Regions from separate parts of the Homo sapiens genome. Here region 1 is linked to region 2. Evidence: fine-mapped expression QTL. Tissue or cell type: stomach. Region 2 holds a variant in brackets; the other region holds the start of a gene. All regions are shown on one strand. Distances are between the middles of the regions.

Region 1 (5,145 bases), 940 kb after region 2:
CACTTTTTACTCATGCTGGTAAATCTCAAATGTGTCCTCCATCCTGCTGGAAATCTGTTTCTCTAGCAGGCTCCATTTCCCACACCCCCTAACTATCATATACCTTCCCCTTTCTCCCCGTCTACTCAAAACATCCACACTGCCCTTGCCCACCCCTCTGAGCTTCGACCTTGCCTCCTGCTTCTGGACCTGACCCTCTCTCCTGCCCTCAGAGCCTGGGCTCCTCTCACAACTCCTTCCCTTCCAGCTCCCCGGGCAGAATCCCACCCCCATGTTCTTTAAGACATTATCTCTCAGCACCATAGTCTCCTTCAGGCTTCTCTTCATTACAGCTCTTGAAAGAGCTGCCATGCCCACTACCTGCTTCCCATTCACTCTCCACACAGGCTCCTCTAGCTTCTGAGCCAATCATGGCCCCTAAACTGCCTCGATCAATGTCGCTGTCACCTCTATGTTATCAAACCCACTGGGCTTCTCTTGGTCCCAACTCTCTTCCCCAACTACTCAGCAGCATTCACAACAGCAGAACAGCCATCTGCTGCCCCTGAGGTGGTCCCCACTCAGCTTCTGTGAGGCCGCATGCTCCCCGGGTGTCCTCTCCCTCACTGCCTGCTGCTTCTCAAGTCTATCTGTCAGGGCACCTGCCTGACCCCAAGAAATGTTAGGGTTCCTCAAGGCTCAGCCCCAAGGCCCCCTTCTTCTTTACTGATACTCCCCCGAGACACTCTCCCAGGCTGTGGACTGTAAACCATCTAATATGCTCCGCCTCCCAGAAGAATGCCTCTAGCCTATCCCTGCTCCGTATCCACCTGCCTCCAGGACAGATCCACCTGCCTCCAGGACAGCTCCACCTGAAGACGTGAGAGCAAAGCCCAACTCTAGGTCACCCCCAGGCTCTGTCCCAGGACCACCATCCACCCACCTGTTCAGGCCAGAAACCCAGAAGGCATGTTGATCCCTCCACTATCCTCACCCTCTATTTCAATCAGTCACTATGGCCTCTCGATCCCCCCTGCAAGGTACGTCTCAAACCAATCTACTCCAAACCCACATCCTAACAGTCGTCAAGCTAATCTGAGCCCCTTCATCTTTCTCCAGGACCACTACAATGGACCCTTGCATTCTTGCCCCGACAACCCACTTCCCACCCAGCAGCAAGAGTGAGCTTGTAAAAACACACATCCAAGAGAACCACTCCTCTACCAAAACCCTCTAGTGGCCTCCAGCTGCACCTAAAATCAATCTTTTAACAAAATAAAACCCAAATTCCAATGACAAGGCTCTACATGGTCTGACCCTTGCCTCCTCCCAGGCCCTTCAGTGTTGTCCAAGGAAACCAGGTGGCCTGTCAAAGCCATCTCAGTCACGAGAGCCCAGAAGTTCCAGCTCTGTTCGAAGACTGGCGGCCATCAGTTGTCTCCGCTAAGACCGCATCCACTTAGGGCAAGGTTGCTCCCTGGGCAGTCTTATTCAGCAGATAAACCATTTCTAAAAATATGAACACAGCACTCGGCCAGGGCATCCCTTGGAGGTGCCATTTCTAGGTGTTACAACTGGAAAGGCAGGTGCACAAAATCCAAAACTGAAATTCTATCACGCTTTGCTTTGTGGGCTCGGCCTAGCCACTTCAGAGGGGCACGAGCGGCCCTCTCTGCGGGAGGAGCAGACACAAACGCTCTTCAGGGCGAAAGCAAACAGGTGGGGCGGGGTTTGGGGCTCTGTTAAAACGCCTCTCGCAGCGCTCTGAGCCTCCTGGATTGGAGCTCTCGCAGGCGGAGGCCACGACCTAGTTTAGCGTCCTTAGGGTAGCGCCGAGTCCTGCTCGTTCTGGGCGGGGGTATGAAGGAGGTACGAAAAGAGGGGGCCGGGCGCCCACTTCTGAGGAGAACAACGGCGGACCCTGCGTTCGGAGCTACCCTGGCCGCCCACCCCGCCCCGCTCCCTGCGAGGAGCGGAGATCTCAGAAACCAGAAACGGCGCCCACCGCACCCCACACGGCCCCACCTGGGGCCGCCTCCACGTGATGTCCTCGCGGAACTGGGCCAGCGGCGTAGACAAGTCGCAGAAGAGCGAGGAGTCCGCGGCGGGGAAGGCGGCGTCCCGGAACAGCTCCCTCGCCGGCGTCGCGCCCCGGCCCGCCCGCATCCTCGGCTCCGCGGGCTCCCATCTGCAGCCGGTTGCCTCGGGGTCGCAGCCCCGGAGAGAAGGCGAGTCAGCCGCCGCCGCCTCCGGCCCGCCCCGCCCGTTCCCCGCCCGGCCCAGCCCTCCAAGCCCGAGGGCCCCGCAGGTGCTGGACCAGGCCAGTACGCCGGCCCGCTAGTCTCCCATTGGTAACCAGGCGGCAGCCAACCGGGCGTGGGGTCTCGGGTCACGTGACAGGCGGCCCAATCGCACTCGCGCGACGGAAAGCGCCACGGACGTCGGAGGCCCAGGGGGCGGGGCTCCCGAGCTCCGCTCTTTCGTGGTCGGGCGGCGGACCGCACTGTATTTTTTCCTTCCGGGGGCGGCGGAGCCCAGGGCTATCCCGGCCTCCGCTCATACCCGGAGGGCCGGCAGGCGTTCAGTCCTCCAGCCGGTGAGGCTCGGGCCGGGGTGTCGGGACCGCCTGAACACGCGGGCTCTGGGAGCTTCAGGGACCAGGGAGCCACCTCGGCCGAGTTGCGTCGCAGACTACAGCTCCCAGCATGCGCCGCCGCTCCCAGCATGCACCTTCCTCCCGAAACGCGTCTCTGCTTCCGGCGCTCTGCTGCGGAGGCCGTGGCCGCGGGTAGTTGGGAGGAACCGAGATTTACGCTTGGTAAGGCAAGTTGCGAGCTGTCCGGCGCCGGTCGAGTTCCTGCCGCCGTCGTCGTCAGGCAGGGGAGAAGGGGGCCTCAACCCCTCTAGTGACAGCTGTTTGCTACCTAATAGGGCTTTTCATCCCACCGGGCCCCAGGGCCTTCGTTAGGAGCCCAGCAGGCTCAACTTCTTGCTGTGGTTCTGGAAAAGGGAGTGACCACCTGGCTCAACACCTCTCTCTGTGATGTGTTTGGGAGTTTTGGGAAATGAGACGGCTCCGAGGGAAGAGCTTGAGGGAGCGGCGTCGCACTCGTTCGACCTTCCCGGGCCTGGGCTTTGTTTCTAGGCATTTTAGGTTGAACGCTCTACATCTTAACTGGGGGCAGGGGAGGTGGCCAGAGCATCCCGCTGAGCGTTTTCCGATTCCCCAGATGGCCAGGCACCTGGTCCTGGTGGCTGGACAGTGACCCCGTGGACGCACATTTACAGCTATAGCCATTCAGTGCCGCGGGGAGGTGAGGATAGTGATCCTGGGACCTGCTCGAGGATTCACCCTTGCCCCAAGAACCTGTTCCATTCCCAGGAATGAAGGCGGTCAGGCAGGGGAGGAGAAGGGGGCCTCAACTCTTCTAGTGACAGCAGTTTGCCACCTAATAGAGCTTTTCAGATTTTGCCTCCTCAGGCCATTTTACTCAGCCTCGGACTATCAAGGATGGTCACATTGAAGCTGTTTTTCTGCAGTCAGGAGCGAAAAGTCCCGGCTGTTGAAGGAGAAACTGAATCTGGTTCAGGAGTCCCAGGTTCCTCCCTCTGAGAGGCCAGGTGGGGCCTGCGTGAGTAGCAGTTGTTCAGGTGGCAGGACACTGCTGTTTTCATCCCACCTGGCCCCAGGCCCCTGATTAGGGGCCCAGAGTGCTTATGTACTTGCCTCGGTCTGAGAAAGGGAGTGACTGCATAGCCCAACACCTGTGGGATGCCTCACTGCCCAGATGTTTCATCTCCGGGATGCTTCATTGCCCATTCAGCACCCTCTATGGTGCTGACTCTTCCGGAAGATGTTTCTGATTCCTTGCTAGGCTGGTGGTTGCACCATAGCTGAGAGGACTCAAGAAGAGCCTGGTCTCAGCTTCACCTAGGAGTCCCGGAGGAGTAAGAAACACGTATCTTTCCTGTTCTGGGCACATATGGGTGGGTAGCAGAGCTGAGGCTAGCTGAGGATCCCGACTCTCCTTTGGGAGCCTTTGTTGTGCCGCTCTCCCAGGCTGATCAGATCTGGAGAGCTAACAGCTTCCTGTGGCCACATCTGTGTCCAAGGCTGGGCCCATGCCTGTAGCCAGATTGCCAGGATCTGGAAGGGGCCAAGAGACAGCTGGTGCTGGGTAGGCAGCAGCCCTGTGTCAACCTGCCCCCACTATTACCCCATGCTGTGATTTGCATGTGGTCTGCCCCTGCCCAAAATGGTATTGAAATTTGAGCCTCAATGAGGCAGTGTTAGGAGGTGGTGCCTAGTAGGAGGAGTTTGGGTAATAGGGGTGGATCCCTCATGGATAGGTTAGTGTCCTTTGTGGAGGGGTGAGTTCCCATGAGAGCTGGTTAGAGAGTCAGCCTTCCTGCGGTTGTCTCTTGCTTCCTCTCTCGCCATATGGCCACGTAATCTCTTTGTGCATGCCTCTCCCCTTCTACTTGCTGCCTTGAGTTGAAGTAGCATGAGGCCCTCACCAGGTGCAGCTGCCCAATCTTGAAATTTCCACCAGAATTTTGAGCCAAATAAACCTGTTTTGCTTTTTTAAAAAAATAAATTCCCCCACCTTGGCTGGGCGCAGTGGCTCACGCCTGTAATCCCAGCACTTTGGGAGGCCGAGGCGGGCGGATCACGAGGTCAGATCGAGACCATCTTGGCTAACACGGTGAAACCCCATCTCTACTGAAAAAAAAAAAGAAACAAAAAAATTAGCCAGGTGTGGTGGCGGGCACCTGTAGTCCCAGCCCCTCACTCGGGAGGCTGATTGAGGCAGGAGAATGGTGTGAACCCGGGAGGCGGAGCTTGCAGTGAGCCCAGATCGCACCACTGCACTCCAGCCTGGGCGACAGAGCGAGACTCCGTCTCTAAATAAATAAATAAATAAATAAAACAAACCCAACCTCAGGTATAGCAGTGTGAAACAGACTAAGACATTCCACATGCCCTGTGGTCCCATCTGCTACCCCAGGGTGCAAAGATGTTCCCTCAGCCCTGAAGAATGACATTCCCCCCGGCTCCTGGGATATCTGGAGGGGTTGTAAGCAGCTTGGGTTGGTGAGATAAGGAGTTTGGGGGGCAGCTGATTCATGACCCTGGCCTCCTCAACTGCAGGCTCTTGGTCTGAA
Region 2 (5,145 bases):
TTTGTGACTGGCTTATTTCACTGAGCATAAAGTCCTTTCGGTTTATCCATGTTGTGGTCAGGAATTCTGTCCTTTTAAGGCTAATAATATTCCAGTGCATGGATAGGCCACATTTTATATATCCATTCGTTGATGGACTTCGGGTTTTTCCCCACCTCTTGGCTATTGCGCATAATGCTGCTATGAACATGGAATACAAATATCTCTTTAAAGGGGCCGGGTGCAGTGTCTCATGCCTGTAATCCCAGCACTTTGGGAGGCCAAGGCAGGAGTATTGCTTGAGTCCAGGAGTTTGAGACCAACCTGAGCAACATAGTGAGACCTTATCTCTAATTTAAAAAATAAGAGGCTGGGCCTGTAATCCCAGCACTCTGGGAGGCCGAGGTGGGTGGATCACCTGAGGTCAGGAGGTCGAGACCAGCCTGATCAACATGGAGAAACCCTGTCTCTACCAAAAATTCAAAATTAGCCCAGCGTGGTAGCGCATGCCTGTAATCCCAGCTACTCGGGAGGCTGAGGCAGGAGAATCACTTTTACCCAGGAGGCGGAGGTTTCAGTGAGCCGAGATGGTGCCATTGCACTCCAGCCTGGGCAATAAGAGTGAAACTCCGTCTTAAAAAAAAAAAAAGAAAGAAAGAAAAGAAGGCCGGGCACGGTGGCTCACGCCTGTAATCCCATCACTTTGGGAGGCTGAGGCAGGTGGATGACAAGGTCTAGGAGTTTGAGACCAGCCTGGTCAGTATGTTGACACCATGTCTCTATTAAAAATACAAAAATTATCTGGGCATGGTGGCCTCGCGCCTGTAGTCCCAGCTACTCGGGAGGCTGAGGCAGAAGAATCGCTTGAACCCAGGAGGCGGACGTTGCAGTGAGCTGAGATGGTGCCACTGCACTCCGGCTGAGGTGGGTGGATCACGAGGTCAGGAGATCAAGACCATCCTGGCCAATATGGTGAAACCTTGTCTCTACTAAAAATACAAAAATTAGCTGGGCATGGTGGTGTGCACCTGTAGTCCAAGCTATTCAGGAGGCTGAGGCAGGACAACTGCTTGAACCCAGGAGGCACAGGCTGCAGTGAGCAGAGATCGCGCCACTGCACTCCAGCCTGGGTGACAGAGCAAGACTCTGTCTCAAAAAAAAAAAAGAAAAAAAAAGAAAAAGAAAAGAAAACAAATATCTCTTTAAGCTCCTGTTTTTAATTTGTGGGGAGTATATGCCCAGAAGTGGGATTCCTGGATCATACAGGGCTACGGTTTGAATGTGTGCAGCAAAGTTCATGTGTTGAAAACCTAATCCTCAAAATGCAGTGGTGTCGGGAGGTGGGGCCTAGTAAGAGCCATTTAGGGCACGAGGACTCTGCCACCATGAATGGTTTCATGCTGTTATCGCGTGAGTGTGTCAGTTAGCTCACAAGTGGCTTTGTTATAAGTGAATACGGCCCCTCTTGCTCTCGTGCCCTTTCGCTGTCTCTCTCTCTTGCCCTTCCACCTTCCACTACAGACGACGCAGGAAGGCCCTCACCAGATGCTGGTGCCCTGCCCTTGGACCTCTCAGCCTCCAGAACCATGAGTCAAATAAACATCTATTGCTTATCAATTACCCAGTTATCAGGGGAACCCGCTCCTAATATTTCAACGTAGGTTCTATTTTCCATAAGTGTCGGCTGGTCTGAGAAATAGAGAAAGAGTACAAAGAGAGGAATGTTACAGCTGGGCCGCCGGGGGTGACATCACATATCGGTAGGACCGTGATGCCTGCCTGAGCCACAAAACCAGCAGGTTTTATTAAGGATTTCAAAAGGCGGGGCGGGGGGGTATGAACAGGGAGTAGGAACAAAGATCACATGCTTCAAAGGGCAAAAGGCAGAACAAAGATCGCATGCTTCTGAGGAAACGGGACAAGGCAAAACAGAACTACTGATAAGGGTCCATGTTCAGCGGTGCACGTATTATCTTGATAAACGTCTTAAACAACAGAAAACAGGGTTCGAGAGCAGAGAACCGGTCTGACCTCAAATTTACCAGGGTGGGGTTTTTCTCTACCCTAGTAAACCTGAGGGTACTGCAGGAGACCAGGGCGTATCTCAGTCCTTATCTCAACCGCATAGGACAGACATTCTCAGAGCGGCCGTTTATAGACCTCCCCCCAGGAATGCAATTCTTTTCCCAGAGTATTAATATCAATATTCCTTGCTAGGAAAAGAATTTAGCGATATCTTCCCTACTTGCACATCTGTTTATAGGCTGTCTGCAAGAAGAAAAATATGGCTCTTTTTGCCCGACCCCGCAGGCAGTCAGGCCTTATGGTTGTCTTCCCTTGTTCCCTAAAATCGCTGTTATTCTGTTTTTTCAAGGTGCACTGATTTCATATTGTTCAAACACACATTTTACAATCAATTTGTACAGTTAACACAATTATCACAGGGTCCTGAGGTGACGTACTTTCCCAGTTTACGAAGATAACAGGATTAAGAGATTAAAGTAAGACAGGTGTAAGAAATTATAAGAGTATTATTTGGGAAGTGATAAATGTCCATGAAATCTTCACAATTTATGTTCCTCTATCGCAGCTCCAGCTGGTCCCTCCGTTCGGGGTCCCTGAATTCCCGCAACACCTGTCTTAGGTATTCTGCTATAGCAACACACAGTGAGCTATGATGTATGGGAATTCTGTTTTTAGTTTTTTGAGGAACCACCATTCTGTTTTCCACAGCAGCTATACCATTTTACAATCCCACCAACAGTGCACAGGTTCCAATTTTCCCACAGCTGTGCCAACACTGGTTATTTTATGTTTCTTTGATAGTAACCATCCTGATGGGTGTAAAGTGGTATCTCAGTGGGATTTTGATCTGTTTCCCTAATGATTAGTGATGGCGGGCATCTTTTTGTGTGCTTCTTGGCCATTTGTATGTTTTCTTTGGGAAAATGTCTATTAAAGT[T/C]GTCTATTCTTCAATTGAGTTGTTTGATGTTGCTGAGTTGTAGGAGTTCCTTATATATTCTGGATATTAAACTCTTATCAGATATATAATTTGCAAGCATTTTCTTCCACGGATTCTCTTTTCACTCTCTTGAGAGTGTCCTTTGATGTACACAAGTTTTAATTTTGATGCAGTTCAATTTAATTTTTCTTTTGCTGCTTGTCCTTTTGGTGTCACATTTCAGAAACCATCACCAAATCCAAGATCACAAAGATTTTTTTCTGATGTTTTCTTCTGGGAGTTTTATAGCTTTAGCATGGTTTTGGTTCTATGGATTGTGCTTTGGTATTATATCTAAGAACTCTTTTCCCAGGTCACAAGGATTTTAGATATTTTCACCTAAAAATTTTATAATGTTATATTTTTTACATTTAGACCTATGACCCATTTATATCAATTTTTGTATAAAGCTTGTGGTTTAAGTTGAGATTACCTCTTTTTTTGGTATATGAATGTCCAATTGTTCCAGCGCCCTTCATTGAAAAGACTATTCTTCTCTCTGTTGACTTGTTTTTGCACCTTGTCAGAAATCAGTTAGCTGTATGTGTGTGGCCTACTGCTGGATCCTATTGTTCAAATGACCTGTGTATATATCCCTTTACCCAAACTACACTGCTTATAGGAAGGCTTAAAAGTGGGGAGTACGATTTAACTTTATTTTTCTGTTTGAAAATTGTTTAGAGTATTATAGTGTCTTTGCTTTTCCATATGCATTTTAGAATCAGCTTGTCTATGTCTTGTCATAGCTTGTCCAGACCGAGAGACATCTGGGGACAACCAATGGGTAACTCATAGCCATTCAGTGGTACTTTGAATTCTGGTTGTATTAGTCCATTTTCACACTGCTGATAAAGACATATCTGAGACTGGGTAATTTATAAAGAAAAAGAGGTTTAATGGACTCACAGTTCCACATGGCTGGGGAGGCCTCACAATCGTGGCAGAAGGCAAAGACATGTCTTACATGGTGACAGGCAAGAGAGAAAATGAGAACCAAGCAAAAGTGGTTTCCCCCTTTTATAAAACCGTTAGATCTCGTGAGACTTACTAGTTACCATGAGAACAGTATGGGAGGAACCGCCCCCGTGATTCAATTATCTCCCACCAGGTCCCTCCCACAACACGTGGGAATTATGGGAGCTACAATTCAAGATGAGATTTGGGTGGGGACACAGCCAAACCATATCACTGGTCTTTCCTAATCCACCTGCTGCTATTTCCTGCTCAGAAACCTCAAGTATCTGCTCCATTAGTTGCGTCCAGATTTTATAGCTGCATTCCACAGGAGAGGCAGGTGGAACTTGCTTACTCCATCTTACCTGGAATTGAAACCCTCTTGTTAATTTTTAATAGTGTGATAATGGCATTGTAGTTATATTTTTAAAGCCCTTATCTTTTATTTATTTATTTATTTATTTATTTATTTTTTGAGTCGGAGTCTCGCTCTGTCTCCCAGGCTAGAGTGCAGTGGCGCGATCTCGGCTCACTGCAAACTCCGCCTCCCAGGTTCACGCTATTCTCCTGCCTCAGCCTCCCGAGTAGCTGGGACTACAGGCACCCACCACCACGCCCGTCTAATTTTTTTGTATTTTTAGTAGAGACGGGGTTTCACCATGTTAGCCAGGATGGTCTCGATCTCCTGACCTTGTGATCCACCCGCCTCGGCCTCCCAAAGTGCTGGGATTACAGGCGTGAGCCACCGCGCCTGGCCTTAAAGCCCTTATCTTTTAGAGATGTAAACAGAAATATATATGGATTAAATAATTATTTAATTATTTATTTATTTTTATTTTTTTGAGACAGAGTCTCGCCCTGTTGCCCAGGCAGGAGTGCAGTAGCATTATCGGCTCATTGCAACCTCCACCTCCAGGTACAAGCGATTCTCCTGCCTCAGCCTCCCAAGTAGCTGAGATTACAGGCATGTGCCACCACGCCCTGCTAATTTTCGTATTGTTAGTAGAGATGGGGTTTCACTGTGCTGGGCAGGCTGGTCTTGAACTCCTGACCTCTAGCGATCCGCCTGCCTCGGCCTCCCAAAGTACTGGGATTATAGGCATGAGCCACCGCACCTGGCCTGGATTAAATGATTTTTTTAAGCCACAATGAGAACTATTTTTAAAAAATATATCAGATTAGCAAGGATAAAAAAGTTTGTTAATGGAAAA

What was found. PIP is the estimated chance that this variant, and not a neighbour inherited with it, causes the effect.
Region 1: it holds the start of CAPN10, and the variant in region 2 is fine-mapped to the expression of CAPN10 in stomach (GTEx, PIP 0.94).

The regions. Positions count from the first base shown.
Region 1 is chr2:240,583,912-240,589,056 of GRCh38, reverse strand. It overlaps CAPN10 (calpain 10), which reads right to left and starts at 2,323. Exons shown (of 12, transcript NM_023083.4): 1 at 2,005-2,323. The coding sequence starts at 2,145. It overlaps CAPN10-DT (CAPN10 divergent transcript), which reads left to right and starts at 2,741. Exons shown (of 1, transcript NR_103792.1): 1 at 2,741-5,145. RefSeq lists a silencer at 2,057-2,286 and enhancers at 1,486-2,312, 2,251-2,545, 2,597-2,776, 3,767-4,136, 4,507-4,576.
Region 2 is chr2:241,522,969-241,528,113 of GRCh38, reverse strand. No RefSeq gene overlaps it. Among named protein-coding and RNA genes, the nearest start is that of STK25, 17 kb to the right of the region's middle. The variant T/C (reference allele first, on the strand shown) is at 2,942.